Linked DNA regions of Homo sapiens: region 2 is linked to region 1. A link means that fine-mapping ties the variant in region 1 to the expression of a gene that starts in the linked region. Tissue or cell type: tibial nerve. Region 1 holds a variant in brackets; the other region holds the start of a gene. All regions are shown on one strand. Distances are between the middles of the regions. Region 1 has its middle 98 kb from the start of SYNDIG1. Region 2 holds the start of SYNDIG1 (synapse differentiation inducing 1).

Region 1 (2,901 bases):
CCTGCACTCTTAACCAATCAACCGTCTCCACACTTTGGCTCCATCTAAAACCCTTAAAATCCTTAGCCCCAGACTCTTCAGGGAGACGGATTTGATGTTTCCTCCCATCTCCTCATTCGGCAGCCCTGTAATTAAACCTCTTTCTCTGCTGCAGCCTGGTGTCTCAGCATATTGACTTCCCTTGTGCATTGGGCAATGGCCCTATTCCACTTACAGAAGTTTTAGATGAGAAGCCTTTTCAGAGCCACAGGCACTCCATGCCAGTTGGTCTTGGCCCCAGGGGTTAGTGGAGCATGTTCCTTGGAGAACAGCAGTTGGTTTCCAGCATGGCTCTCCCAGCTGCCACTGTGAAGCAGAATGTCGACTCTGATTTTCATTAGATCAAAGTACACCTGAATGTTTTCCACATGGAAAATGTGATGTGCTGTGGAGATGTGACAATCATCTTCCCTGCAGGGCAAGATGATCCTTCTAGAAGGGCATCTGTTTGTGTAAGCGAAGCTGGGATGTGCAAGTGGCCTTCTGCGGCCTGTCATACGTTGGCCTCTGGTAACTTCTGTTTTAAATACAAGTGATTAAGGAGACTCTGTAGAAGTAGAACTAATGCAATGTTACACCAACTGAAAGTGTATTTTTACTCTGTGTGATTGAATCATTACAGGCTTTCCCCTGTAGTGATTACAGCAGCGTCTTGAAAGCCAGACTCCCAGCAGCACTGCTGCAGGACCACGGACTCGTGAGAAACGTTTTCAGTGGTGTCTATCTTTTGGCTTTGTTCTCTAGTTAGGATTCATCACTTTATGTTCCATTGTGAAAATGAAGACATATATCAGCTCTGAGAGTTATTCACAAACTCCAAACATGTTTGCCTACAATGTTCCACTGCTTTGAGGCTAGAGAGAAGAATGCTGTTGAAATCCCTAAATCCCAGCATGTCTTGAGGGACACCATAGAAAGATGACTCCATATTCCAGACAACACCTCCGTCCGCGTCAGCCACTCAGGATCATCTGGGATTCCAACTGTCAGAAACACTAATTTCAGAGTGAAAAACCATAAAGTAAAAGAAAAACCCATACCCACAGGGTCACTAATGACAAAGTGGCTGAGTGCCAACAGCGTAAACAACATTTAACTTAGTTAAATTAGGTAAAGTTTAGCTGAGTCTTAACTACTTAAGATTAATTACTGCATAAGAAAAATAAAAGTATCCTAAATTGTACAGCTCAGATATAAGGAATTTGACAGACATCTCCTAAAACTTGGCAACAAGATTAAAATGTATATGACATTGCCAATTATCAGTTATAAAGCTAAAAGAAACACTTAAAACCAATTAATAAGACAAAAACTTTTCATCAACTGTGTCAAGAAAACAGCAAACTCA[T/C]CTTTCCATTTTCTCTGTGGAGAAGGATGCTGTGAAGTCATTGACGGTGGAGAGGGCCCCAGCGGGCAGGCATTAAGGAAGTACGTTAGAATGGCTGTCGGGCAGCTGGTTCATAGAAATGTGGCATTTTCCCAGAATTTGTGATGTTTGTAGCATCTGCTGGCTTTTAAAATGTATGAGCTGTGATTTCTCTTCTCACTCTAAACAGATAGTCTTTTTCTTAAGAGGATACCCATATTGGAGAAACTTCAAGTCCCATAAATCTGGGTCTATCTGTAGTTTTCAGCTTGTTATTTTGCTAAGCAATAACATTAGAAACTAAATCAGACTCAACCAAAGTGACCTACCAGCTATCTGCATTTTCAGTTCATAAAACAATAATATTTTAACATGAAAATAGGAAAAACAGTTGTTACTGAGATAAAAGGGCACCTTAACAAAAGATGTATGAAAGCACAAACATGCTGCCCTTGTTTCCCCCTTGCTTTTCTGGGGAACCTGAAACAGAGATGATGTGTCCACCGTCTGGCCAAAGCCACCTGGCCCCCAAGCATCCATTGCCCATGAGGCAGAAGGTGGGCCCTGACATCACTGCCTGCCATCCAGATGATCTATCCATGGCCTCCCAGCTGCACACCCAGCACCCGACAGGCCTCAAGGCCAGACCTACAAGGCCTGAGCACCTCCCCTCCTCAGGACTGTCTGCACGTCCCTCCCTGTTAGAGTGACCCAACTGTGAGGCTCTGCTGCTGCCCAACATGGGGATTTTAACCCAGAGGGCAACAGCTCTCCTGTTCTGGCAGGTGCTTCAGTGATCAAAGAGGGCCCCTGCTTATCTCCAGGAGTCTCAGGGCATGGAACTGGGCTCTGCCTCTAACCCCATTTCACTTTAGCCAACAGCCTCATTCATCATCAGCCTCCCTGCAGGGCCTCAAGCACCAAGATGAGGGCCATGGATTACTTTAAACACTTGAGTCAGGCAATAAGATCTAAGTGGACCTGTGCTCCCGTTCCCACCCCTGCCAAAGGAGTGAGTAACTGAACTCAATAACTTGGCTTGGCCTGGGCTCTGTTCCCAGTGAGCGGCCAACATTGAACCAGAATCCATGCTCCAGAGGATGCTCCCAGCATAGAACCAGAATCCTCCCTTCAGAGGAGGCTCCCGGGGCTTTGCTACTAGTACAAAAGATGGTAGGAAGAAGCTCTCACTGGTGAACTTGGTCGTTCAAGACAGCTGGCCCTACAGTCTGCTGGAGACCCTCACCTGCCTTTGTGTGAACATGGCCTGCAAGCCTGGGACCTGGAACTGCACAGATGATCCCGGACTGCCCTGGGCCAGCTGCTGGGTGGGGGATTCTTGGCCCCCCGGTCTCCTGTAGATGATGTGCCATACCCTCCTGCTGGGCTCTGGCTGTGTTTGTCTCAGGTGAACTTTTCATCCAGGATATTTTCTGAGCACTGGAAAAACTGGAAGCTGAGACTCCCAAGGTCTGCTTACTAATAAAGGCTGTGAG
Region 2 (2,901 bases), 98 kb before region 1:
CACACCACCGCCAAACACAGAGCACGCAATTCAACTAAAAATTCGACTTCAGTTTCTTCCTGTCCGCGCCAGAACGGACATCAGACTGCCCCCCGCCCGCCTCCTAGCAGCTCCTTTTCACTTCGGCTGCTGCCAGGATTTCGCGACCTAGACCCCTCTTTGAAGACCACTTCCGATCCCCGACGCGGCAGCCCTTGAGGTCGCAGCCTAGCACGGAGAAGTTGGCCGGCTCTGGGGGCTATGAGGCTGCTCACCCCACAGGCGCAGGTCTACGCAGCACACACACCACCTCCTTCTTTGGACTCAGACCAAACACGCTGGGCTGTAGGAGGGAGACGGACAGATACACGGACTCGCGCGCGCACGCCTCACCAACTGATTCCAACCAGAAAACGGAGCCACTGTGTAACGCCCAGCCCCCCTCCCCTCGACACCCCCAATCAGCCAAGCCTTCGGCCGGTGTCTGCTGCACTAAACACCAGGACGTGGCCAGGGAAGGCGCAGGCATCGGTCCGAGCCAGGAGCGCCGCGGCGCCAGCGCATCTGACGTCGCAGGAGGACTGTGCGCACCTGAAGTCTGGGTGCCAAGCGCCCAAGCCTCTGCGTGCAACGAAACCCCCAAAGGAAAACAGGACTACCAGAAGACCCCTTCCTCTCGTCTTTCAGAAACGCCAAGCGGCCCCTCTGGCCGCCTCCTCAAAGCTCGGCTGCCAGAGCCACTCTAGTAGGGTCTTGCAAAAAGCGCATAGGGACAAAGCCCCTTCCCTAAGAAAAGTGCCCAACTCATCCAGTGAGCCATTCCTTCCTCCTCACTGCCCAGAGAGTGCACATGAAGAGGCAGAAATCACGACTAGGAAAAAGCGAGATTCAAATTGGAACCAAAAAAGCGTATGTGCTCGCTCCCATCTCGGCGCCAGGGCTGTGGCTCCCAGGGCTGCAGGCTGTCGCGGCTGCCAGGGGCCAGACAGCTTTTGAAGGCAGGTCTTGTCCTGGCTAGAGGAAAGAGGCTCCAGGAGTCTCTGCTTCCGCCACGGTCGCCCGTCGGGATTCCCCATCCCAAGCGCGCTTGCACCTTGCCTGCCGCTCCGCTCGGAGAATTAGTCTGTTTCCCTTCCTACTCCCAAACAGACCTAGGTCCCCAGCTCCGTGGCCGCCCGGCTCACCAGCCCTGGCTGGTCTCCTTCGGGTCACTCCGAGGGGCAGCCCGAACCCGCAGAGCCTTGGCCCGCCGCGCGCCCTCATGGCCCTGCTGGGCAGCCTGGCTCCGCTACGCTCTCAGTTCTCGGTCTCACCAGCTCCCATCGAATTCGCACAGCAGCCCCTTCGCGTCTCCCGGGGTGGCAAGGCACCAAGGTGCAGCCCAGGCCAGCATCGACCCCTTCCTGGGCATTTTCTCTGCCGGCTCAGCTCCCCCTCCCGCCCTGCGACCCCGTGTCTCCCAAGTCTCGTCGCGGCGACCACCCGGACTTACCGCGGGCGCCACGCCGCCGCCGGGTCTGCGCGCTCCGAGGCGGAGCCAGGACTAGGACACCCGCCAGCGCAGGGCAGCCTCCAGCTCCCGCCGCCAGCTCGCGGCCCCTGCCGCGACCCCGCCCACTGCGGGCCCCTCCGCCCGCCCCCGCGGCCGGGAGGTCTGGACTTACCTCCGGGACAAGGTGACCCGGCAAGTGCGCCCAAGCGGCCGCCCGCGACTCTCCCGAGCGAGCGAGCGTGCGGGGCGGTGCGGCGCCCGCCTCTGCTCCTCCGCTGCCAGGCTCTCTCCTCCTCTGCCCTCCCCTCAGCGCCGCTCTGCTCCCCACGCCTCTCCCCGCCCTGCGCTCTCCGCCTGCGCCCCCGGCTGCCCCGAGCGCCGGGCGCGGGGCAGCGGCGGCAGCCCGAGCGGCGGGGAGTCGGGAGCTGCGGCGCCGGGGCGGAGCCCAACCCTCTCGGCCCCCGGGAGAGGAAGGGGTGCGGGGAGACTCTCGTCGCGCTCGCCTGGCCGGCAGGCTGGGCGAGGGGCGCCCTGGGGCGAGCCGCTCCTCTTCGCTTGCCGAGCCTGCCGACGCGCGTGCTGGAGGCAGCGGGCGCGGGCCCCGGGGGAGGAGGGCAGGGAAGAGAAGGAGGGCGCAGCCCGCGCGAAGGTGGCCACCAACTTTGGCCCAGACCAGGGAGGCCCTAGCGGGGGATCGCGTCCAGATGGTGGCCCGCGGCCAGTGTCTGACAATGTGAGGGCCACAGAGGCTGGGGGCGGGGGATAGCTGCGGGGGACTAGGAGGACAGGAATTTGCTGCCCGACTAGAGGAAGGGATGGCTCCCCTCGGTCCTAAAGGCCTCCCCAGGCTGCGGTTCGGTTTTGAGGTTAAAAATGACCCAATTTATGGATCCGGCGAATGTTCAAGTCCTGACCAGCTAAGCCCTGGAGGAGCAAGCGGGCGCGGAGTTCAGACTCCAGAGACCCCCTCAGCCCTGAGCCAGCCTGTTGTTGGCCCATGGCGGGCCCGCCCCAGTTGGAATTGGAAGGAAACTAGGGCGGTGGTAAGACAGTCTGCGTTCTAGGAGCGGAGGAGGTGGTGTTTGCAGTGTAGATTTCATAGAGAATCAACTCTGAAAAAAAGATTTACCAGAAAGGGGGTCAAAAGTTATTTAGAAAAGCATCTGTGCGCCCCCGTTTCAACACTAGGCAGAGGCCCCAGTCCTGCCACCCGCAGGCTGGTACACTGGTGGTCAGAGAAGGTTAAGCTCCAGAGTTCCATGGCTCCCAACCTTCCTAGAGCCCTCCCTCCTGCCTGGTAACCCACCATTGCGCTGCGTCTTGCCCAGGTGTCCTGGTGGGCAGGGGCAGGAGTTAAAGGTGGTGCCAGGAACAAGAGGTCCTTCCTATATTCCTTTCAGGGGACGTGGCTTCTAGGGAGCCTCCGCAGC

What was found.
Region 2: SYNDIG1 starts here. The variant in region 1 is fine-mapped to the expression of SYNDIG1 in tibial nerve (GTEx, PIP 0.97).

The regions. Positions count from the first base shown.
Region 1 is chr20:24,370,661-24,373,561 of GRCh38, reverse strand. No RefSeq gene overlaps it. Among named protein-coding and RNA genes, the nearest start is that of SYNDIG1, 98 kb to the left of the region's middle. The variant T/C (reference allele first, on the strand shown) is at 1,388.
Region 2 is chr20:24,468,496-24,471,396 of GRCh38, reverse strand. It overlaps SYNDIG1 (synapse differentiation inducing 1), which reads right to left and starts at 1,768. Exons shown (of 4, transcript NM_024893.3): 1 at 1,644-1,768.